7 linked regions of the Homo sapiens genome follow. The protein of the gene in region 3 purifies or fractionates together with the protein of the main gene of each other region. This does not show direct contact. Each region holds a gene or a part of one and is shown on either strand. Other genes may lie near its edges.

Evidence for each region.
Region 1: the proteins of SF3A1 (region 3) and SART1 fractionate together in Homo sapiens (co-fractionation; 3 studies listed by BioGRID and IntAct, with this or other methods). This does not show direct contact.
Region 2: the proteins of SF3A1 (region 3) and DNAJC8 purify together in Homo sapiens (affinity purification with mass spectrometry; 4 studies listed by BioGRID and IntAct, with this or other methods). This does not show direct contact.
Region 4: the proteins of SF3A1 (region 3) and CCDC97 purify together in Homo sapiens (affinity purification with mass spectrometry; 3 studies listed by BioGRID and IntAct, with this or other methods). This does not show direct contact.
Region 5: the proteins of SF3A1 (region 3) and HNRNPC fractionate together in Homo sapiens (co-fractionation; 3 studies listed by BioGRID and IntAct, with this or other methods). This does not show direct contact.
Region 6: the proteins of SF3A1 (region 3) and SNW1 purify together in Homo sapiens (affinity purification with mass spectrometry; 3 studies listed by BioGRID and IntAct, with this or other methods). This does not show direct contact.
Region 7: the proteins of SF3A1 (region 3) and HNRNPU purify together in Homo sapiens (affinity purification with mass spectrometry; 3 studies listed by BioGRID and IntAct, with this or other methods). This does not show direct contact.

What each region holds. Positions count from the first base shown.
Region 1 is NC_000011.10:65,968,234-65,971,733, reverse strand, and holds part of SART1 (U4/U6.U5 tri-snRNP-associated protein 1), read right to left. Parts: intron 1-3,500. UniProt on the Homo sapiens protein: Plays a role in mRNA splicing as a component of the U4/U6-U5 tri-snRNP, one of the building blocks of the spliceosome. May also bind to DNA.
Region 2 is NC_000001.11:28,212,530-28,216,029, forward strand, and holds part of DNAJC8 (dnaJ homolog subfamily C member 8), read right to left. Parts: intron 2,468-3,500; coding exon 2,411-2,467; intron 1-2,410. UniProt on the Homo sapiens protein: Suppresses polyglutamine (polyQ) aggregation of ATXN3 in neuronal cells.
Region 3 is NC_000022.11:30,350,395-30,353,894, forward strand, and holds part of SF3A1 (splicing factor 3A subunit 1), read right to left. Parts: intron 2,679-3,500; coding exon 2,557-2,678; intron 1-2,556. UniProt on the Homo sapiens protein: Component of the 17S U2 SnRNP complex of the spliceosome, a large ribonucleoprotein complex that removes introns from transcribed pre-mRNAs.
Region 4 is NC_000019.10:41,313,172-41,316,671, reverse strand, and holds part of CCDC97 (coiled-coil domain-containing protein 97), read right to left. Parts: intron 289-3,500; coding exon 1-288. UniProt on the Homo sapiens protein: May play a role pre-mRNA splicing through the association with the splicing factor SF3B complex which is involved in branch-site recognition.
Region 5 is NC_000014.9:21,213,943-21,217,442, forward strand, and holds part of HNRNPC (heterogeneous nuclear ribonucleoproteins C1/C2), read right to left. Parts: intron 1-3,500. UniProt on the Homo sapiens protein: Binds pre-mRNA and nucleates the assembly of 40S hnRNP particles. Interacts with poly-U tracts in the 3'-UTR or 5'-UTR of mRNA and modulates the stability and the level of translation of bound mRNA molecules. Single HNRNPC tetramers bind 230-240 nucleotides.
Region 6 is NC_000014.9:77,730,157-77,733,656, forward strand, and holds part of SNW1 (SNW domain-containing protein 1), read right to left. Parts: intron 2,446-3,500; coding exon 2,329-2,445; intron 974-2,328; coding exon 832-973; intron 1-831. UniProt on the Homo sapiens protein: Involved in pre-mRNA splicing as component of the spliceosome. As a component of the minor spliceosome, involved in the splicing of U12-type introns in pre-mRNAs.
Region 7 is NC_000001.11:244,858,044-244,861,543, reverse strand, and holds part of HNRNPU (heterogeneous nuclear ribonucleoprotein U), read left to right. Parts: intron 1-1,069; coding exon 1,070-1,209; intron 1,210-2,169; coding exon 2,170-2,269; intron 2,270-2,702; coding exon 2,703-2,815; intron 2,816-3,269; coding exon 3,270-3,500. UniProt on the Homo sapiens protein: DNA- and RNA-binding protein involved in several cellular processes such as nuclear chromatin organization, telomere-length regulation, transcription, mRNA alternative splicing and stability, Xist-mediated transcriptional silencing and mitotic cell progression.

The sequences.
Region 1 (3,500 bases), on a different chromosome or scaffold from region 3:
CCCTTAACTGCCTTGTCCCTCCTCCCTAGAAAACCCAATCCTCAATCCCACCATCCACTGCTTCAGGGCATTAATCCCACCATCCCCCTCCTCAGCTCCTGAATCCCACCATCCCCCTCCTCAGCAGCTCCTGAATCCCACCATCCCCCTCTTCAGCAGCTCATGAATCCCACCATCCCCCTCCTCAGCTCATGAATCCCACCATCCCCCTCCTCAGCTCATGAATCCCACCATCCCCCTCCTCAGCTCATGAATCCCACCATCCCCCTCCTCAGCAGCTCATGAATCCCACCATCCCCCTCCTCAGCAGCTCATGAATCCCACCATCCCCCTCCTCAGCAGCTCATGAATCCCACCATCCCCCTCCTCAGCTCATGAATCCCACCATCCCCCTCCTCAGCAGCTCCTGAATCCCACCATCCCCCTCCTCAGCAGCTCATGAATCCCACCATCCCCCTCCTCAGCTCATGAATCCCACCATCCCCCTCCTCAGCTCATGAATCCCACCATCCCCCTCCTCAGCAGCTCATGAATCCCACCATCCCCCTCCTCAGCTTCTGAATCCCACCATCCCCCTCCTCAGCAGCTCATGAATCCCATCCCCCTCCTCAGCAGCTCATGAATCCCACCATCCCCCTCCTCAGCTCATGAATCCCACCATCCCCCTCCTCAGCTCCTGAATCCCACCACCCCCCTCCTCAGCACCTCATGAATCCCACCATCCCCCTCCTCAGCAGCTCATGAATCCCACCATCCCCCTCCTCAGCTCATGAATCCCACCATCCCCCTCCTCAGCTCATGAATCCCACCATCCCCCTCCTCAGCTCCTGAATCCCACCATCCCCCTCCTCAGCAGCTCATGAATCCCACCATCCCCCTCCTCAGCTCATGAATCCCACCATCCCCCTCCTCAGCTCATGAATCCCACCATCCCCCTCCCTCAGCAGCTCATGAATTCCACCATCCCCCTCCTCAGCTCATGAATCCCACCATCCACACTGCCACTGGCAGGCCTGCTCTTCTCCCAGGGTGTATCTGCTCTCCACTCTCCAGAACAGCATCTCCCATCTCTTTGCACCACCACCTCTGCCACCTCTTCACTGGAAAAACACCAGAACAATCGGCCATGGGCTGCCTTGACTTCCCCTAAACAAGGTCACCCACAGCTGCTGTGCCCTCCCCACCTTCCCTCCTGAAATAAATGATGACACGAGCTGGCTTCACTCAAGCCCACCCTCCACTTGCACTCTAGGCCCCAGCACCGCCTGCCGAGATCTTTTTCTTCTTCCGTCATAAATGTGTCTCCCACATACTCTAGAATCTCCGGTAGTCAGAAAAGGCTCCTTTGCGGGTGGGAAACTTGATTGGATGCTGCTTACAACAAAAAACTAAAAAGACATTTTGGGGGATAACTGGAAAATGTTGGCATGCGAGCTGCTGTTTTACAGCATTTATGGGCTTGTTAGGGCAGTGTGGCTATGCGGGAGAAGGCCCTGATTTCGCCAGATGCCTACTGAAGTCGTTAAGGATGCAGTGTCATGATATCTGCAACTCCCAGTGGTCAGGAAAAAAAGAAGAGAAAGAAAAGAACTGTAACAATGTTTATAATTACTGACTCTAGAGGACAAAGGTGTTCACTGTGATAGGCTTTCCACTTTTTTGCCTGCACAGTGTGTGGGGTGTGGCTCATATGTTTAAAAAACCTTCTAGGTGGCCGGGTGTGGTGGTTCATGCCTCTAATTCCAGCACTTTGGGAGGCTGAGGAGGGTGGATCACAAGGTGAGGAGTTTGAGACCAGCCTGACCAACACGGTGAAACCCTGTTTCTTCTAAAAAATACAAAAATCAGCTGGGCGTGGTGGCATGCACCTGTAGTTCCAGCTACTCAGGAGGCTGAGGCAGGAGAATTGCTTGAGCCCGGGACATGGAGGTTGCAGTGAGCCGAGATCGCGCCACTGCACTCCAGCCTGGTGACAGAGCGAGACTCCGTCTCAAACAACAACAAAAACTTTCTAGGCTACACCAGGCCTGGTGGCTCATGCCTGTAACCCCAGCACTTTGGGAGGTGGAGGCGAGAGGATCGTTTGAGCTCAGGAATTTGAGACCAGCCCGGGCAACACACTGAGACCCACAGGCGCACGCCTGTAGTCTCAGCTACTTGAGAGCCTGAGGCAGGAGGATCCCTTGAGCCCAGGAGTTCAAGGCTGCAGTGAACTATGATTGCACTACTGCACTCCAGCCTGGGCAACCGAGCGAGACCTTGTTTCTTAAAACAACAACAAAAACAACCTCCTAGGTGAGTCTAATGTGCAGGCAGGCTGAGATCCACGGGGCTAGAAACCCTTATGTTCATTTCAGTCATAAAACAGCCCTGTCAGCCTATTGCTCCATTTCTCTGTTCCTTTTTAGCCGGGCAAACTATGTCCCAACACCTGTTCTTAGAAATAAAGTATTACTGGAACCCAGCCACGCCCACTCACTTACAGACTGTCTTGGCTGTTTTCCCTATAACAGCACAGCATTCAAGGTGCCTAACAGAGACCATATGCCCTTAAACCTCAAATACGTCCTCTCCAGCCCTTCAACAGTAAGCCTGGCCTCCGTCCCGGGTTCAGCCCTCACTTTTTCAACTCCCCTGTCCTCCGGGTCCTGAATCCACTGCAACTGTCCCCACTTTGCCTCCCAGTAGTATCAGAAGCTTCCCTCCCTTGCTCCCTCTCCTGGACACGCTTTCTTGGCTTCTTCCTAGGTGAGAAGTGTGGGGTAGGGCTAAAAGTGTGGCCTCTGGAATGATGGAGATGACAGAACCTTCCTCATAGGGTGTTGCTGGGAGGATGGAATGAATCAACAAACACAGAACATGTGAGCAGTGCCCGGCCCACTGTGCCTCTGGGGCAGCGACGACCATGGGGTCAAGGCTCCCCCTGCGTTGGCCCCCTACCTCTCCATCTCAGCTCACGCCACCCCTCACTCTCTGCTCTGCTCCAGCCTCCCTGGCCCTCAGGCACTCTAAGGTCACTTCTCCTGAGACACCTGCTGGTTGGTCTACTGCCTAAATGCCAGCCTGTCCACCTGCTGCCACCCCTAACCCCCCGCAAGGCTGGCTCCTCTGTGTGACTCAAGTCTCAGATGAACTAGTACCTTGGAAAGGTCTTCCCTGCACTCTCCCATCTAAGATCCCAACCCCCGGCACGTTATCTTGGTTTACTGAGTGCCCAGCTCCCACCACCATCAGAAATTACCGTTCCTGCATTAACAGTCACTGCTGCTCCCCACGCTCTCCCCCACACACTCTAGAAAGCCAGCTCCATGAGCCCAGGGCCCCATGGCTATCCTGTTCACCAATGACCTTCTCAGCCCAAGAACAATGCACTACTCACAGCAGGCATTCAACAAACATGCACAGAAGAGAGAGGCAAGGAAAGGATCCCCTACTAAAGCAGGCATCTAAAAATTTTTGCAAAACATGACTTTAAACAGAATAGAGGGCTGGGCACGGTG
Region 2 (3,500 bases), on a different chromosome or scaffold from region 3:
ACTCAATGTCCCAAAATACTAGGATTACAGGCATGAGCCACTATGCTTGTCCATTCTTTTTTCTATATAAAATTTTTATAATAAACCAGCTAAAAAAAAAAGAACTTTCATAGGTAATTCAGATACTCACAGTTAAAAACCATGACATATTGTCAATTGACAGAAACCAACTAGTTGGAACCCAGGGAACTATGTCGGGGAATGAGAACAAATGGGAATCTAACGCTCCGTTCAGCATTACTGGAACCATTATGCTGGGTTCTAATTCCAACTTCAATCACCTACTAGCTATGAGACCTCGAGCAAATCACTTAACCTATCTCTGCCTCCGCTTCCTGCTCTGTAAATGAGATAATACTATGTACCTATATCTAATTGGGCTGATATAAGAATGAAACAAACAATGCAAGTAAAGAAATTAGCAGACTAACACACGCTGACAATAGTTAGCATATAGTGAGGATACATTATGTGCCAAGAGTTACTCTAAATGCCTTCTGTGTAATACATCATTTAAATTCTTACAACAAACTCATGGGATAGACACCATTATTACATTTTACAAACGGGGTAACAGACACGGAAAGGTTAAATGTAACTTGCTCAAGTTTACACTGCTTGTTAAGTGGTACAGTCAAGATTTAAACTAGTTGTATAGCTCCAATATGCACACTCTTAACTATCAGTCCATATTAATGATTTATTAAGAATTCTTAACTCTTATTATTTATGTAGCTACATAAAAAATTGTTTTGACTATGAACTTAAATGCTTATTAATATGGGAATGATTAGTAATGCATATTAGAAAATTTGAAATTTTAGAAAAAGGAAAAAGCTAAATATAAGTATAGAGTAGAGCTTAGGAAGGAAAAAAAAAAGCTATAAAGTTATATAATGGGATATGATTACGTAGACCAAGTTAAAAAACATCTTGGCTTAACTGTAGATCAGAAAATGACTATGAGTCAGCAATATGGGGAAAATTACTGTACTGAAGAAACAAGCACACCACTGGATATTAACAAGTATCTCATCAGAAGCTGAAAATTACATTCAGCTCTGGTCAGACCCTATTAAAATATGAAGTACATAAGACTATAAAGAAGCTAAGGAAAGTTTTTTTAAAAGACATGGAATATATAGAAAATCCAATTTGCAAAGGCAAATTATAGGGACTACGATTATTCAACTCAGAAAAAAAGGTAGCCAGGCACGGTGGCTCATGCCTGTAATCATGGCACTTTGAGAGGCTGAGGCCAGCAGATCGCTTGAGCCCAGAATTGAGACCAGCCTGGGCAACATGGCGAAACTCTGTCTCTACAAAAAATACAAAAATTATCTGAGCATGGTGATGCACACCTGTAGTCCCAGCTACTGGGGAGGTTGAGGAGGGAGGATTGCTTAAACTCAGGAGGCACAGGTTGCAGTGAGCCAAGATCACACCACTGTACTCCAGCCTAGGTGACAGAGTGAGACCCTGTCTCAAAAAATAATAATAATTTTTAAGAAAAAAAGGCTGGGGGGAGGGTTACTCAGCTGTCAAAACTGGAAGGATTTTTTTTTTAAGTTTACTTTAAAACTTTGTAGTTCCAGTTATTAAACCTACGAATGGGCAAGATTCAGAAGCTATAGATCTCCTTTCCTGGAGAACTTTCAAAAAGCACTCTTTATACCAGTTATCTCTTAGGTATTCATTTAAGTTGGCAAAAGATAAAATTACGGCCGGGTGCAGTGGCTCACACCGGTAATTCCTGCATTTTGGGGAGGCTGAAGCAGGTAGATCACTTGAGGTCAGGAGTTCGTCACCAGCCTGGCCAACATAGGGAAACTCTGTCTCTACCAAAATACAAAAATTAGCCGGGTGTGGTGGCATGCACTTGTAATACCAGCTACCTGGGAGGCTGAGGCAGGAGAACTGCTTGAACCCAGGAGGTGGAGGTTGCAGTGACCTGAGATCATGCCACTACACTCCAGCGTGGGCGACAAAGCAAGACTCTGTCTCGAAAAATAAGAATAAAAATAAAAGATAAAATTACAGACAAATGGAGTCTTAAAGATAAAAATGTGCTATGAATCATTTGATATGTTCCCTCCTAGAAGACAGGGGGTTTGGTAGTTACAACTCCATGCAAGCTCTATTATTCTACTTTATACTTATCCCTCTTAATTAAGGAGTTGCAGAGATTCTATTTGGATATAAAATTCATTCTATTCATAGGTAAGCTATGGTCATTAAATTATTTAAGATTTTATATATTATTATGAGCTTTTTTTTACAAAACAGTTACACAGCCTTAAAAAAAAGTTAAATTTTGGCCCAAACATATCAAGTCAATAATAGCAAGTGATAAAAGAATCATGTGCTTCATACATTTTCAAAAAGTTCAAACAGGGAAATAGTACTGTACCTGCCGAAACCTCTTTTTTATTTCTTCATCTGTAACTTCAGGATCTATCTGAAGAACCTGGAAGTATCAAAATCAAAACCATAAAAAAGGTGAAAATAAATTACATGTATATTTAAGAGTTGCTCAGTAATTATATATATTATAATCAGCATCTAGAATAGTACCCCATGTTCTAGAACACAGGCTGGCACACAGTTCTAGAAATTGCTAAAGAAATATGAATGATCAAATCAACAGAATAACAATTATATTGTCTTATGGTACTCAAATAACATAATGCTTATTTTCATCATAAAAATAATAATTTATTTTACACCCAGAGACATTTTTACATGAGAAAATTTTGCATTTCTCCTTCATTCATTAAAAGAGTTTAACTCCCCCTCCCTTTATTTTTGCAAATGTCGAGAAACCGTAATAACTCAAAAAAGAAAAAAATAGCCCAATGGACACTTTATAATTTACAAGGCCCAGTGGTTCTCAATCAGAGTGAATATTAGAATCACCTGTGGAAACCTGTGAGCAATGGCTGGCCCACTCTACGAAAGTCTGATTCCAACCCCATAGAGCAGGGGTAGGGCCAATAGGAGGAACAACTCTATTTTTTTTTTTTTTGAGATGGAGTCTCGCTCTTATTGCCCAGGCTGGAGTGCAATGGCGAGATCTCGGCTCACTGCAACCTCCACCTCCGCGGTTCAAGCGATTTTCCTGCCTAAGCCTCCTGAGTAGCTGGGATTACAGGCACGTGCCACCACACCTGGCTAATTTTGTAATTTTAGTAGACACAGGGTTTCTCCATGTTGGTCAGGCTGGTCTCAAACTCCAGACTTCAGGTGATCCGCCTGCCTCAGCCTCCCAAAGTGCTGGGATTACAGGTGTGAGCCACCGCGCCCAGCCTTAAGCAACACTTCTTTAAACAAATAATTTTTTTTTTTTTCGAGACAGTGTCTCACTTTGTTGCCCAGGCTGGAGTGCAGTGGCATAATCATAGGTCACTGCAGCCTCAAGCTCTGGGGCTCAAGTGGTCCTCTGGTCTCAGCCTCTTGAGCAACTAGGACTGTAAGTATGTGGAGCGCACAACCATGCCTGG
Region 3 (3,500 bases):
TAACTTGAGCCCAGGAGTTCAAGGCTGCAGTGAGCTGTTATCATGCCACTGCACTCCTGCCTGCGTGTCAGAACGAGACTCTGTCTCTAAAAAAGAAATGTTGGAAACCTCCTCCTCTAAGGAAAATACAGAAATGGTGGCCAAGTCAAGGAAAGCCTTTCACCTCTACATGGTGCATCCCCTTAATAAAGGACCACAGGGCATTATGAAGACCATGGAGCAAAATGGAAAAATGCTTACAACACAGAGTGGAATATCTTTACTAGTATTACAAGGATCTAAAAAAAGGATTCCAAGGACAGAAGGAAACAGAAAAATGTGAAAACAGCTGGTAGACACTACTCTGGTAATGAGAATATGGTGATTCTTCACCCAACTCCCCTTTTCTGTATATTCTGTTTTTAAAGTATCAGGGGAAAAGGGGAGGCATGAACACTGCTAAGAGCCATTAAACATTTATCTTAAACACAACACTGTCTAAATCTGACATGACCCAATCAACATCATCACAATGTTCAATCAAGCACAGAGAAGCTTTCAACCTAATACTCAAAGGTAATCAAAGCCCTTGAAATGTAATGAGATGAATCTGCAGAGCTGACATAGTGAAAGTCTAACCAAAGTAGGCTGGTGCCGTGGCTCACGCCTGTAATCCCAGCACTTTGGGAGGCCCAGGTCGGGGGATCATTAAGTCAAGAGACTGAGACCAGCCTGGCCAACACGGTGAAACCACGTCTCTACTAAAAATACAAAAATTACCTGGGCGTGGTGGCGCACGCCTGTTGTCCCAGCTACTCGGGAGGCTGAGGCAGGAGAATCACTTGAACCCAGGAGGCAGAGGTTGCAGTGAGTTGAGACTGCACCACTGCACTCCAGCCTGGCAACAGAGTGAGACTCCATGTCATTTAAAAAAAAAAAAAAGAAAGTCTAACCAAAGTAATCTTTATGTCTAATTTTATTAGGTTGGGAAAGGAAGGACCATCCGTTAAATGATGCATACTGACTGAGACACTGCCTCAGGGGGGTGACGTGGTCCCTGGAGAACACATGCTGATTGGGCCTGCTTCCACACATGAAGGAACTGTCCAGAAATCCAGACTGATTGTGAAATCTCATTTTTACTTGTTTTGTTTTTTTTGAGACAGGGTCTCACTGTCACCCAGGCTAGAGTCCATGGCTCACTATAGCTTCAACCTTCTGGGCCCAACCGATCCTCTTGCCTCAGCCTCCTAAGTAGCTGGGATCACAGGCCCATGCCACCACAGCCAGATAACTTTTTATTTTTTGTAGACAGGGTCTCACTATGTTGCCCAGGCTAGTCTCAAATTCCTGAGTTCAAGTGATCTTCCCACCTTGGGCTCCCAAAGTGCTAGGATTACAAGCAAGAGCCACAGCACCTGACCTCCTCATTTTTAAATAGTAGCAACAAATTTGAGTTTCGAAAAAATTACTGTGAGGACAAACAAAACATCTGTAGGCTGGACATGGACTGAGGGCTGCCAAAGGAATACCTTAAATACCCTAGAGAATGTACTGACCTTTGGAGTCAAGGGGCCAGTAAAAAAATTCCATCTAAGGATGTGAGGGTAAGTACAGTGGGGAGAGACAGGGGGAACTCGGAGCAATTCCCATTCCATCTGAGGTGGCGGCTAGCACCTGCGTGGAACTGTGGGGAGAGACAGGAGGAACCCGGAGCAATTCCCATTCCATCTGAGGTGGCGGCTAGCACCTGCATGGAACTGTAGGAAGAGAGAGGATCTCTGACCAATGCCCATTCCATCTGAGAAGCCAGCTAGCACCTGCACAGGACTGTGGGGAGAGACAGGAGGAACTCAGAGCAATACCCATTCCATCTGAGGAGACGGCTAGCACCTGCATGGAACTGTGGGGAGAGAGAGGATCTCTGACCAATGCCCATTCCATCTGAGAAGCCAGCTAGCACCTGCACAGAACTGTGGGGAGAGACAGGAGGAACTCGGAACAATGCCCATTCTATCTGAGGTGGCGGCTAGCACCTGCATGGAACTGTGAGGAGAGACAGGAGGAACTCGGAGCAATGCCCATGCCATCTGAGGAGGTGACTAGCACCCGCGTGGAACTGAACTGCATGCAGCCCCATGACCTCACTCCCGCCTCACAACAACTCTGAGATGGCATTTTTTCCATTTTGCAGATGGGTCATTTGAGGCTCTTGGAATGTGGTCTTTGTACAATGAGAATAATAAACTCCCCTTTTTATCTTCCTCAGGCCAGCAGCTCAGGCACAGACACACACCATCTGTGATGAAGCAGCTTTCCAGGCATTTCCTCAGGCCAGTTTTAGAAGCAGAGGCTCCTGGTGACTGTGGGGCTAAGTGTGATTCTCACTTTGGCCACTGCTATGCTGTGTCAGGGACACCAGTCCTACCTATTGCCTACCCCAGTGCCATGTTGTGGTTTTTTATGAACTAAAAGGCCCAAGCCAACAACGTCTCTTTAAAAACCCTTGTGCTGATTCAGTGCTGAAGTCTCTTCATGCTGAAACCCACCTCTGACCCACCCAAGTAGCTCTGTTACCTGGCCACAAAGCTGGCAGTCTTGTCAACAATATTTCTGACCTCTGGAGGAGGGTAAATAATCCCCACAACTGGCTTAGAAGGTGCAGAATCCTCCTTTGAAGATGCTTCTTCTTCTGTGGGCTGTGCAAACAGGAAAAGAAATAAGGTTTTAAAGTCCCTGGTTCAGAGCAGGTTCTCCACTGTAAAACTCCTCTAGGATATCATTCAGAGTAGACTTTCATTCACAGACTTCCCTCAGGTTAGAACCCTCTACTTCAGAAAAGCAGTTCTCTTAAGTTCACTGCACCTGCAGGGGCTGCTCCTGGGGACCCAGGGAGAAGAGCAGCTTCCCTGGCTCCTCTCTCACTGGACTATCTCAGTGAGACCAGGAATCTGCATTTTTACTATGGTATGAGACCAGCACTTCTCCTGTTGTCCTTCCCAGTTTCTCCCCAACCTCCCCTTTTCCCTAGTTTATAAGACAGGAGAAAAGGGAGAAAGCAAAAAGTTGGAAAGAAACAGAAGTAAGATAAATAGCTAGACGACCTTGGTGCCACCACCTGGCCCTGGTGGTTAAAATAATAATAATATTAACCCCTGACCAAAACTACTGGTGTTATCTGTAAATTCCAGACATTGTATGAGAAAGCACTGTAAAACTTTTTGTTCTGTTAGCTGATGTATGTAGCCCCCAGTCACGTTCCTCACGCTTACTTGATCTATTATGACTCTTTCACATAGACCTTTAGAGTTGTAAGCCCTTTAAAGGGCTAGGAATTTCTTTTTCGGGGAGCTCGGCTCTTAAGACACGAGTCTGCCGACGCTCCCGGATGAATAAAAAACCTCTTCCTTCTTTAATCCGGTGTCTGAGGAGTTTTGTCTGCGACTCGTCCTGCTACATTACCAAATGCCCAGGTGATTCAGATGCAGGGACTCCGACTACATTCTGAGAAACCATGTTCC
Region 4 (3,500 bases), on a different chromosome or scaffold from region 3:
GGAAGCGCTCCAGGAACACCAGTGGCTTCTCGTGGTACAGCTGGGCCAGGATGGCCACTTTCTCATGCTCTGTCAAGTCGGGTTCACCCTGCTGCTGGCTGCAAACAGGCAGGCGGCTGGCGGCTACAGCGTGCAGCATAGCACTCACTGCTGCATTTTCAGCCCCGGAGGTGTCACTGTCCAGGGCCACTGGTGTTGCCTCAGCTGCTTCCACTTTGTCCTGGGGTTTAGATGGGACTGGTGTCCGGCTCAGCTCACCCCAGTGCCCAGGTCCAGGCTCTATGCAGCCTGAGGAAAGGAGAGATTGGTTAGTTCAGAGATGGGAGTGTGGGAAGGGACTGGGGGCTTAGTCACTCACTCAGCTCACATTTACTGGGCACTGACTATATTCTGGGCACTGTTCTGGGCACTAGAGAAACCACAGTGAGCAAAAGTTGACATTTCAGTAGGGGACACAAACAATTAGCAACATAATTACCGAAAACATAATGTGTTAGGTGTTTCCTGGAGTTATGCGGAAAAATAAACAGGGAAGGAGGAGGGAAGAGGTGGAGGAGGCTGCAATTTTATTTTATTTTCGAGACAGGGTCTTGCTCGGTCACCCAGGCTGGAGTGCAGGGCGCAATCACAGCTCACTGCAGCCTTGACCGCCTGGGCTTGAGCGATCCTCCCATCTCAGCCTCCCGTGTAGCTAGGACCACAGGCATATACCACCATGCCTGTGTAATTTTTAAATTTTTTGTAGAGACAGGGTATTGACATGTTACTCAGGCTGGTCTCGAACTCCAGGGCTCCAGCAATCCTCCTGCCTTGGCCTCCCAAAGTGCTGGGCATTAAAGGTGTAAGCCACTGTGACTGGCCTATTTTTATTTTTATTTTTTAAGAGATAAGGCCTTGCTCCATTGCCAGGCTGGAGTGCAATGGCACAACCATGGTTCACTGTAACCCTGAACTCCTGGGCTCAAGCAATCCTCCCACCTCAGCCTCCTGAGCAGCCAGGACTACAGGCATGCACAACCATACTCAGTTAATCTTTAAATTTTTTTTTCTTTTTTTTTTTTGAGATGGAGTTTTGCTCTTGTTGCCCAGGCTGGAGTGCAATGGCGTGAGATCTGCCCACTGCAACTGCCGCCTCCTGGGTTCAAGTTATTGTGGTTGGTGCCTCAGCCTCCCAACTAGCTGGGATTACAGGTACAAGCCAAATGCCTGGTTAATTTTTGTATTTTTAGTAGAGACAGGGTTTCGCTATGTTGGCTAGGCTGGTCTCCAACTCCTGACCTCAGGTGATCCACTCCCCTTCGGCCTCCCAAAGTGCTGGGATTACAGGTGTGTGCCACTGCACCCTGCCAATCTTTTTTTTTTTTTTTTTTTTTTTGAGACGGAGTCTCGCTCTTTCGCCCAGGCTGGAGTGCAGTGGAGCAATCTTGATTCACTGCAACCTCCGCCTCAGGTTCAAGCAATTCTCTGCCTCAGCCTCCCGAGCAGCTGGGATTACAGGTACCTGCCACCATGCCCGGCTAATTTTTGTATTTTTAGTACAGACAGGGTTTCACCATCTTGGCTGTGCTGGTCTCGAACTCCTGACCTCGTGATCCACCCGCCTCGGCCTCCCAAAGTGCTGGGATTACAGGCGTGAGCCACTGCGCCTGGCCTGCACCCTGCCAATCTTTAAATTAAAAAAAAAAAAAAAAAGTTTCAGTAAAGACAAGGTCTCACTAGGTTGCCCAGGGTGGTCTCAATCTCTTGAGCTCAGGCAATCCTCCCACCTCGATCTTCCAAAGTGCTGGAATTACAGGCGTGCACCACTGGACCCGGCCTAATTTTAATTTTTTTTGGTAGAGACAGGGTCTTGCTGTGTTGCCCAGGCTGGTCTTGAACTCCTGGCCTCAAGTGATCCTCCTGCCTCAGGCTTCCAAAGTGCTGAGATTACAGTGTAAACCACCATGCCTGGCCAAGGCTGCAATTTTAAATGGAAGGCTCAGAGAAGGCTTTGCCAAAAAAGTGACATTTGATTAGAGACCTCAGGTGGTGAGGGATTAAGCCATGAGGTCTCTTGGAAAAGAGAATTCCAGGCAGAGGCAACAACTACTGCAAAGGCCCTGAGGCCTGACTTATTGATCCACTCAATTCTTTAAATCGTTAATACATTTGCTAATTTGTTTACTCATTCATTCACTCTCTCATGCATTCATGCGTTCACCCAACCACTCTTTAATAACTCTAAATCTTAGGCCGGGCGCGGTGGCTTGCGCCTGTAATCCCAGCACTTTGGGAGGCTGTGGCAGGTGGATCACCTGAGGTCGGGATTTCAAGACCAGCCTGACCAACTGGGAGAAACCCCGTCTCTACTAAAAATACAAAATCAGCCATTGTGGCACATGCCTGTAATCCCAGCTACTCGGGAGGCTGAGGCAGGAGAATAGCTTGAACCTGGGAGGCAGAGGTTGCGGTGAGCCAAGATCGTGCCATTGCACTCCAGTCTGGGCAACAAGAGCAAAACTCTAAAAAAAAAAAAAGAAAAAAAAACACTAAATCTCTGAGAGGCCCTAAGTCAGGCAATGCTGAGGATCCATAGGATGAATCCAGTCCAGCTCCTGCCCTCAGGGAGCACCCAGTCTGATGTGGGAGACAGTCAGGATCAACAATAATATGGGCAAAGAAAACAGGAAAGCTGGCTGGGCACCATGGCTCATGCCTGTAATCCAGCACTTTGGGAGGCCGAGGTGGGCAGATCACTTGAGGCCACAAATTCAAGACCAGCCTGGCCAACATGGTGAAACCCTCTCTCTATTAAAAATACAAAAATCAGCTGGGCATGGTGGTGGGCACCTGTAATCCCTGCTACTCAGGAAGCAGAGGCACAAGAATCGCTTGAACCCATGAGGCAGAGGTTGCAGTGAGCCGAGATCAGCCATTGCACTCCAGCCTGGGTGACAGAGTGAAGACTCTGTCTCAAAAAAATGGAAAGAAAACAGGAAAGCGGAGCGCTGGGCAAACCTTGGTGAGACTTGTTTCCCAAGAGTGGAGGGAGCAAGCCTGCGGCAAGCAGGAAATACGTGAAAACAGAATATAGAGACAACTTTAAGCAGCGTGGCTGGGTTGGGGAGGAAAGAAGTCACAGGTGACATACATGTGTTGTGTGTATCAGGGAGGATTTAAATCACTGATGCAGCTGAAGACTGAGCTGGACAAGGGCAGGGGCTGTGGAGGAAGGAACAGGATCATGAGTGAGCGAATCAGAAAGATGTCAGGAGGCTGAGTGGAGGAGCCACAGGGCTGACGTGCTGGAAGTAAGGGAGGCATCCAGGGGAATGGTCCGACTGCTGCTACACGGGCCTCCAGACTCCTCAGGAGAGAAATGTTGGGCTGGAGACAGAGCTGTGGGTGTCATCAGAATCAAGACAAGAACCAAAGCCAAGAGAAATGAGAGGTAGGGACTGGGGAGGGCACAGGGGAGTGGGAGAGGGATGACAAGAGGGTCCAGGAAAAAGCACTGCACA
Region 5 (3,500 bases), on a different chromosome or scaffold from region 3:
TATCCCAGTGATTGATAAAGATACACCAAAGCAGTGGCTTGGTACACTTACATTTGTAAAGAGAAAATTCAAAACAGAACAAAATACTTCTTACATGGACATCAGTTCTAAACTTTCTACATTCCACATTGTCATTTCCATATAAGAACCTATGGCAACGTATGAAAAGGTCTTCAATTCTGCAAGCTTTTTAAAAATGCAACTAACTTAATGCAAAGGCCCAGGTACTCTATAAAAATACACCTACCAACTGTTCTAACTCCAAATATTTCTTAAAAAACAAATGTGATAGTCAAGAACTTTAAAAATATTATTAATCACCTTTGTCATGATTCTCCCTCTTATATATATACAATAGTGGCAAGTTATTCTGAGTTGTAATATCTCCAATCTTCCTGTAGTGAAAACATTTACAAGATCTCATTGCTAATTCTCTCCTCTGTTAACTTAAAAGTGTTTCCACACTATTTCAACAAAGCAATGTTTAATCTTGTCCCAGGAGTGGCTATGGACAGGAACATTTTCCTAAATTAAAAGAGCAAGGAAAGCTGAGATGGAAAGACAGGTTGAGCCCAGGAGGTGAGAGAACCATGACTGCACCACTGCACTCATGCGGAACAGAGCAACACTGTCTCAAAAAAAAAGAAAACAGAAAAAAGTTTGCATTTCCCCTAAGTATGGTTAATCTCTTAGTTTAATCCATTCATGGGAATTAATGCAAAGAAAAAGATACTGAGTAACTTTTTATTATCACTACTTTCCCATTTTGACATAAAGCTTTTGGTCTTTTTGACCAAAATCTTGCAAAGTATAATGATACAGAAACTATAAAATATCAGTGTTCAGAAACTCATATCCTTTGTGAGAGATGGTAACACTTGCACAAACACAAATTGCTTAACGACAATTTCTGGAGGTGAATCAAAATAAGTTATCCATATCCATGAGCATTAAACTGAGCTTAAGCCTCAGTCCAATGGAAATAAATATCTAATCTACCTCCTAAGCCACAAACCTTCACCGGCACCCGTATCTAAACCAATGAGCTAGCTAGCTAGTTCTGTACTATCACTGGAATTTCTTTTTAAAACCTACTATTTCGTCTGACCACAGCCAAAATAAAGCAAGTAATACAGTTTTGTTTTGAATCTATGTAACAGTCTCATGAACACAATTAGGAGTCAAATTCTCTACTTTTCTGAAGAAAAATATTTCAAAATATTTCAGCCAGTTAAGGCTTTTAGTTACACAGAATGCTGCTCAGGCAGAAATGGACTCTCATTCACATCTGAGGAAGTAGTCCTTGCCTCGAAAAATGTTGAGGACGGTAAGTGTGAAAATAGAAAAAAAACATACATAGTGTGACAACCTTTAAGTTAAAAGGGATATATATTAAGAAGCTCAGTATGACTACTTCAAGCACCAGCTAAAAATTAAGCGGAAATTCTCACTATGAGAAAGCTATACAATAGATGAGGCAACAATAGCTGATTACTTACTGATTAAGGCTAGGCTGTTTAAAATCTTTTACCAGGGGAACAAGGACTAAACCCTAGGAGAATTGTAACTGCACCCATAATCAAACTTGATGGTGTTGGTATAAAATCTAGTCAGATTAAGAAATTAAAACACTCTAGAGACATTAATCACCTGAACAGATTAAGACAAAATACACCAGCCAGGTGTGGAGGCTCATGCCTGTAATCCCAACATTTTGGGAGGCGGAGGCAGGTGGATCATGAGGTTACGAGTTGAGACCAGCCTGACCAACATGGGGAAACCCCGTGTATACTAAAAATACAAAAATTAGCCGGGCATGGTGGCACACGCCTGTAATTCCAGCTACTCAGGAGGGCTGAGGCAGAAGAATTGCTTGAATCTGGAAGGCAGAGGTTGCAGTGAGCTGAGATCATTCCACTGTACTCCAGCCTCAGTGACAGAGCAAGACTCCGTCTTAAAAAAAAAAAAAAGAAAGGAAGAAAGAAAGAAAAGGAAAAGAAAAAGAAAAAAAAAACAACAAAACACACCAGCTGGATGCAGTGGCACACCTGTAATCCCAGCTACGCAGGAGGCTGAGGCACGAGAGTTGCTTGAACCCAGGAAGGAAGTGGGGGTTGCAGACAGCCATTGCACTCCAGCCTGGGCGACAGAGTAAAAACTTTTGTCTCCTCCACCACCAAAAAAAAAAAAAAAAAAAAAGACAAAGAATGTCTACCCCAATTCCAAAGTAAAAGCATTACAAGACATGTACTAAGAAGAGGTTTTCAAAGGGAAGCTTCTTAAATGGAAATTCTGACCATAAGACATTAGCTGCAAACAGTGACATTTCCTGGGTCTCAAAAAACCTAGTAATACATGTCAACACTACACCAGAGTAGACGTTAATCTATTAATAATAAAGCTATCATTTGGTACATGGACCATTTAATGGACCACAGCTGATTCTCATCTTAAAAATGTGAACAGATTGAAATAATCTGTTTTGCCGGACAGGGTGGCTCACACCTGTAATCCCAGCACTTTGGGAGGCTAAGGCGAGCGGCTCATTTGAGGCCAGGACATGGAGACGGGCCTGACCAACATGGTGAAACCCAGTGTCTACTAAAAATAGAAAAAATTATCCAGGTGTGGTGGCACATTCCTATAATCTCAGGTACTCCGGGGGCTGAGGGACAACAATCGCTTGAACCTAACAGGCGGAGTTCATAATGAGTCAAGATCCCACCACTGCACTCCGGCATGGATCACAGAGTAAGACTCCGTCACAAAACAAAAATTAAGAGAACCAAAGGAGCAGTTTTTTCCATTCTATCTCCAGTAAATACTAGTTAAATGAACTACCAACTGATGACAGACATCTGCCTCAAACTTAACTATGTAGATAAAAAAACTGATATAAAAAAGTTTAACACAGGTTTACATTAAAATTTAAATAACAATATGTCAAATTGTGACCGAAAACAATAAATCCGTTAAACTAGCTAGCTAGCTAGTTCCGTACTATCACTGGAATTTCCTTTTAAAACCTACTATTTCATCTGACCATAGCCAAAATGAAGCAAGTAATAGTTCTGTTTTGAATCTATGTTAACAGTCCCATGAACACAATTAGGAGTCAAATTCTCTACTTTTCTGAAGAAAAATATTTCAAAATATTTCAGCCGGTGGGGCTTTTAGTTACAAAGAATGCTGCTCAGGCAGAAATGGACTCTCATTCACATCTGAGGAAGTAGTCCTTGCCTCAAAATGTTCGTAACATAGTTGGAATTCTTGATTTTGTGCTTAAAAATAAATCAACCAGCAAAATTTTTGTAGCTTGTGTTTTATTTCTAAACTGAAATCAATGATTTCTAATGTTATTTGCAAGTACTTCACCACAAACATGCTGTCTTAGTCTAGCATCAGTTTACCCGGATACTATCAACTGCAAGCACCACTCATTTAAAATATAAAACGACTAAATGGTAAACCAGTATGCTCATTTGCTCACCACTGGAGCT
Region 6 (3,500 bases), on a different chromosome or scaffold from region 3:
CTAACAGCACCATCTCAGAAGTGAGGGCTATTTGACCACTCTCACCTTCTGGCAATTTTATATCCTCTTTCCCTGTATTATTTTTCCTCCACAGCAATTATTACCTTTTACTATACTACATGATTAATTTCTGTCTGTCTACACTCACCAGAATGTTGACTGTTATATCCCATCCCCCTACCCACTGTCTAGCAAAAACACTTTGTGTCTAAAAGAGAACCTTGCACACAGCAGATGCTCAATATGAACTAAATAAATGAAAGAATGAATAAATGTACCAGGTAAGAATTTAGTAATGAAAAAAAAATAACCACCCTCACAAAATTTCTTGAATTATACTTAGGACTCGACTTCCCACTCTAATTGAATTAATACACCAATGTAGACCACTAAGTAAAGTCAGAGAGAAAATACTGGCAGATTTAATGATGAGAAATGCATTGGAGCCTACAAGATAGAAAAACTCTGGATTACTTCACCATATGAGGGAGCTGAATTATTCTGTTAGATACCTAATTTCTCTTAAGTTTTGAGATTAAGATAAGAGAAAATCAAGCCTATCATTTGAGTAATAATGCAATTTTGAAAAGTACACTGCTCAGAAGTTTAAAAATTTCTGGTACAGTCCCAAACTGAAGACCCACTTTTTTCTTATCTCCTGTTGCTTCAGCTTACTAAGGCAGAGATTACTCTCCATTTCTACACTATATCTGATGTATCTAAATTTTGTTTATATGTACCTACTTTATATGCAGTAGGAAAAAGATTTTCTAAAATAAGATATATTTTGTTCACCAAGCAAAATTCAATTCAGTAATGAGAATGTCATACCTTTTTCCACATGAGTTTTGATCCCAGCTCTTCTCTCCCTGGCTTTCTGGGCCATTTCTCTAAGTTTCTCTTCATGTTTTTCCTTTTCTTTCTGAGCCATTTTTCTCTCTACTTGGGCACGCATTTCCACAGCTTCACGAGCCTGTTGGTAAAGTCACATGTTAAACAGGACACTATCATGGGATAAATATTTATGGCTATCATCCAACTCCCTAACATCTGGCTGGTAAGAGCAATTATACAGAATTCAGATTTGTTATTGCTAATTAAAACAAAGAGTCTTGTCCACTAAAAGATATCCTGCCTGGAAGACACTGCAAGGTCAGCTTTTTTCTCTGGGAATATTTTAGTGATTGAAACTATCGTGACCCCAATTAATCTTGTAAGTCAAGTATTTCACTAATGCTTTCTCAGAAACAATCTAAAGAACAAAATTAAAGCCAGGCATAGTGGCTCTCTCCTGCAATCCTAGCACTTTGGGAGGCCAGGGTGGAAGGACTGCTTGAGCTCAGGAGCTTGGGACCAGCCTAGGCAACATAGTGAGATCCATCTCAAAAAAATAACATTTTCAAAATTAATAACACTTTCAAAGTTAATCAAGTCAACTCAAGATAAAATCTTAACTTACATCTGCTAGATAATTTTTATAAGGGTACTCACTGTGATACAAAAGACATTTTTTTTATGTTCCAAACACATGCTATGATGCATGTGAACTTCAATATCACATATTAATTCCATAATATTTATATTTACATATATTTTTTGAGATGAAGTGTCTTACTCTGCTGCCCAGGCTGAAGTGCAGTGGTGCGTTCTTGGCTCACTGCAACCTCCACCTCCTGGGTTCGAGAGATTCTCCTGCCTCAGCCTCCCAAGTAGCTAGGATTACAGGTGCATGCCACATCCAGCTAATGTTTGTATTTTTAGTAGAGATGGAGTTTCACCACATTGGTCAGGCTGGTCTTGAACTCTCAACCTCAAGGAATCCACCAGTCTTGGCCTCCCAAAATGCTGGGATTATACACATGAGCCATTGTGCCCAGCCTAATTCCATAATATTTAATACATTATGTAACATTAATAGATGGCCAATGCTATGAACGCCATTTTATGTACTATTCAATTCATTAGAATGTTTATCTGCCTTTTCCTGCAACTGCCCTTTTGGGGGACATCTACATCTAAAATAGAGGAAAATTTGAAATCAAAAATTATGAAACCTAGCAATCTTCAAAAAATGGGATCATCCTAGGAAACCATTATTCTGACATGTTGTGAGGGAGCCGGATCACCACTGTGGGGTGTATGTACACATCTACAAAAGCTGGGAGCATGCAGAGAGCTGCCAACTAGCAGCTGCCATTTCTGACACACGTACCATGGGTGAGACTCTCTTTGGGTGCTCGGTACTATAGTTAAATTATCAGTACCTTAGGTAACCAAGAATGGATTTTAAAAGTAACAAGAGCATTAAACAAATTATAACAAACCAACCTTCCGATCAGCAATGTAGAGGGCTTCTGCCAATTTGGCGAAATTTTCATTTATGTGTACTGTCTGTAGTCCTCTTCCATCAGCAGCCAGACGTTTGTCTAATGGAATTGTATAACCCTAGAGTGAAAGCAGACAGAAAACCCAGTCACAGAAGTGCTTCAATTAATCGTCTGAAGTTAAATTAATTTTATTTTTTTCGAGCTGGAGTCTTGCTCTGTCACCCTGGCTGGAGGGCAGGGGTGCCATCTCGGCTCACTGCAACCTCTGCCTCCTGGGTTCAAGCGAGTCTCCTACCTCAGCCTCCCGAGTAGCTGGGACCATAGGCGTGCGCCACACACTCGGCTAGTTTTTCTATTTTTAGTAGAGACGGAGTTTCACCATGTTGGCCAGGATGGTTTTGAATTCCTGACCTTGAGTGATCCGCCCTTGGCCTCCCAAAGTGCTGGGATTACAGGCATGAGCCATCGAGCCTGGCTAAAATTAAATTTAAATATGCCCACATTTTGAGAACCACTTAACTGGAGGTTCTTTTTCCTTGCATCTTTCTTCACAATGATGCAAAACAACAGCAGCTATCAATGAGTGCTTTATGTAGAAGATCAAGCACTTACACCTATGGTCTCATTTAACCTTCACGATAACTCTATAAAGCTTCTAACATTATTGTGTCCATTTCACTGATGCTTTGGTAACATCCCCAAGGTCATACAGTTAGTAAGTGGGCGATTAGGATTTAAACTCAGCAGGATTTCAGAACCCAAGCTCTGGAAAAATAGATATTTGTGTTAATAATTGTCGATTTTAATAAAAGGAAATCACTGTCAAACAGTTCAACAGTTGCTCCTCAAGTAAATTTAACAGTCAAACAAAGGTAGAATCACTATAATCTTAGCATCTATAGGAAGTTAAATCTGCTGTACTGTCTTAATGATCTGTTATATTCTTAGAATCCTGAAGTTTTAGTAAATAGAAAAAAAAGGCTGGGTGCAGTAGCTCAAGCCTGTAATCCCAACACTTTGGGAGGCCAAGGCAGGTGGATTGCTTGAGCCCAGGAGTTCAAGACCAGCCTGGCAACATGGTGAAACCCCGTCTCTACCAAAAATACAAAAAAGTAGCCAGGCATGGTGGGGCACACTTGTGGTCCCAACTACTCGGGAGGCTGAGGTGGGAGG
Region 7 (3,500 bases), on a different chromosome or scaffold from region 3:
TAAAACTCTTTCTTACTGGAATATCCTTTACAGAAGGTTGAGATAGTCATCTGAGCCTTTTTAAAAGAAAAAACTGCAGGTGAAAAAGGAGTTAGTTGATGTGAAAGTTTTAGTGAAATTCTGGGTTGTATAAATAAGTTGCTAGGAATTGGCAAGGTAGTGAAGTGGTGACTCACACAGGTAATGTAATTGTTAGATTTTTTAGCAAATCAGGAATATGTCAATATAAGTACAATGTTGAATTCAAACAATCTGTTGAATTAAATTCTGTTGATTAGAATAACTCTAATTTAAGAAAAATTCCAAACTGTAGATTTATTTTTCTCTGATCAGTAAAAAGAAAATGAGTTCCAGCTTGACTTTAGCTGTTCAAGTGAGAAGTCTGAGGAAGTGCATGTTAATGAGCCAGTGACCCATAGGTAGCTGGGTTAAAGACACTTTGGATTTGGATAATCCGGGAAGCAATTAATCCCTAATTGTTGAACAGGCAGTCCTGGGTAAAGAGGACCTAAAATGCTGCACTATTAACAGCATTAGACGGCCAGGTTTGTACTTCATAGTTTTAGGCTGTCTTCTTCACAAGTTTTAGAAAAAGAATTTAGGAGCTAGAGCCCTGGTGCAGGATCAACAGCAGCTCATACTCCTATTTTAAAATAATTTGGTCGTGGCCTCCCTTCAGTTTTAATGTGGCACTGGTAAATCTACCTGGTTCTGGCATGCTTCACTTTGATTTCCTGCTATCCTCTACTGCTTGCCTCTAAATCAAGGTAAAGAGCAGAGCAGGTATGTATTAATGTCACATTGTCTTGATTATTTTAAATACTTAAAATATACATGTTAAACCTTGGTATTAGTTTCACAGGCAGTTTACTTTTCAGTACATAATTTAACAGGAGTGACTTGGTGGGAGTGGGGCTTTAAACTGAAAATTGGAACAACAGCATGATGTGGAGAAAAGTTGTGCAGCATTAAGAAGTACATGCAAAAATTAAGTAACCAAGTTTTGTCTACATAGCAGATATGTTTACATTGGATGTCAAAAGTAACACAGTATTTGATATAATTACAGATAATTGTGATCTACATTTTAAAATATCAAGAGATCGTCTCAGTGCTTCTTCCCTTACAATGGAGAGTTTTGCTTTTCTTTGGGCTGGAGGAAGAGCATCCTATGGTGTGTCAAAAGGCAAAGTGTGTTTTGAGATGAAGGTAAATGCAATTTTATGATTTGTTTGTTTGTTTGTGGAGACAGTCTCACTCTGTTCCCTAGGCTGGATTGCCGTGGTGCGACCTAGGCTCACTGCAACCTCCGCGTCCTGGGTTCAAGCGATTCTCCTTGCTTCAGTCTCTCAAGTAGCTCGGACTAGAGGCACACACTACCACACCTGGCTAATTTTTGTATTTTTAATAGAGATGGGGTTTCACCACGTAGGCCAGGCTGGTCGCCAACTCTTGACCTCAGGTGATCCACTGTCTCGGCGTCCCAAAGTGCTGGGATTACAGGCATGAGCCACTGTGCCCAGCCTTTTTTTTTCCTTTTTAAAATAGTGACAAGGTCTCACCATGTTGCCCAGGCTGGTCTTGAACTCCTAAGCTCAAGTGATCTGCCCGCCTGAGCCTCTCAGAATGCTGGAATTACAGGTGCTTCATACTGCTAAGTTATCAAAGGTACTTATTTTTGAAGCTTCCTGTAAATTAAAAGAGGAGCTTGGAACCTTCATTTTGTTGTGACAGTTAATCACGGTTGTTATGTTAGAACTTGCCATGCAGAGCTAGGCGATTTTTTATTTAGGGTACTTCATTTTTATCAAGCATTTGAAAGGGCCACCAAAGAGTTAAAAATAAAATTTGGTTACATTACTGCTTTTGTTGGTGAGAAAAACATTAATTGTATCCTTTAATTGGCTTTAAGTTAAAGACTGACAACATGAACTTTAAAAATATTAAGTATTCTTTTAAATATGGGTCAAATAAGTATTTAACTCTTTAAATTTCAAGTTATAAGCACATCAGTTTAAAGTTCTTACAAATATTGGGGGTGGGCTAGAGTGTGCCTTCTTTGTATTTATAGCTAGAGGAAGATTAGCCCGTGGCGCAATGAAATATGCGAGAGTTAAGGGGTTACCTCCTTGGTGTATTATTTTAATTATTTAATGATTTGACTTTCAGGTTACAGAGAAGATCCCAGTAAGGCATTTATATACAAAAGATATTGACATACATGAAGTTCGTATTGGCTGGTCACTAACTACAAGTGGAATGTTACTTGGTAAAGCTTCTTTTTGACTGATGTGGGCTCATGAATGTTCAGGAGGGTCTGATTTCAGTGTTTTTTAACTAGAGGGCATTCTAAGCCTTTTGTCTGTTTTTATCTATTCTGTTAATACTTCAGACAGGTAATATTAGCACATAGTAGGCACAGGCTACATTTTAGTTTTTGTTCCTTTATTAGAAGTTTATGACCAATGGTTGAAATAAAATCTTACCCGTGATATGCAAATCGTCAACTAATTTGGTCTCTGCGTATATATCCCTCCTAACTTCCATCAATTCTGGTACAGAGATAGAAAAGTAATAGTGTCAGTGACAGGTGATTAGGTTATATGCTTATTTCTCTTGTAGCCTACATCTTAAGTAGTAAAATAGATGAGTCTTTGGACTATTTTAAACATCTACTTCATGAAGATTAATTATTTTCTTAGGTGAAGAAGAATTTTCTTATGGGTATTCTCTAAAAGGAATAAAAACATGCAACTGTGAGACTGAAGATTATGGAGAAAAGTTTGATGAAAATGATGTGATTACATGTTTTGCTGTAAGTTAAAGCTAACTTTCTATGTATAAATGGCAAAGTTAGTAGCTATATCTAGGAACTTTAAAGAAGCTTTACTGAGGTCAGTTTTCAATATGAGCAACAAAATACACCAGTCCCTGGATTAGTGTAAAGACTTCATTCAGCAGTTGAATTGGGAAAACACAGGACATTTTTGAGGAACTCACTAATTCATTTTGACTGAAAACAGTGAACATGAAATTGACCTAGAAAATTCAGTCTAGCTTCTAGGTCAGTATTGTTTCTGGTTCTGGAGATACGTGCTTCATGGTTTACAACCATCAGATTTCTTAACTGTGTAGCCCTTAAAGGCCACCTAATAGTTCTTTAACCTGTAGCTTCCACAGGATAAGCTTTGCTCCTAATTTTAATTCTTAGTTTTTTAGAAAGTTTAAGGAAGCAGATTTTAACTGTTGAATTTTTTTCTGTGTAACAGAACTTTGAAAGTGATGAAGTAGAACTCTCGTATGCTAAGAATGGACAAGATCTTGGCGTTGCCTTCAAAATCAGTAAGGAAGTTCTTGCTGGACGGCCACTGTTCCCGCATGTTCTCTGCCACAACTGTGCAGTTGAATTTAATTTTGGTCAGAAGGAAAAGCCATATTTTCCAATACCTGAAGAGTATACTTTCATCCAGAACGTCCCCTTAGAGGATCGAGTTAGAGGA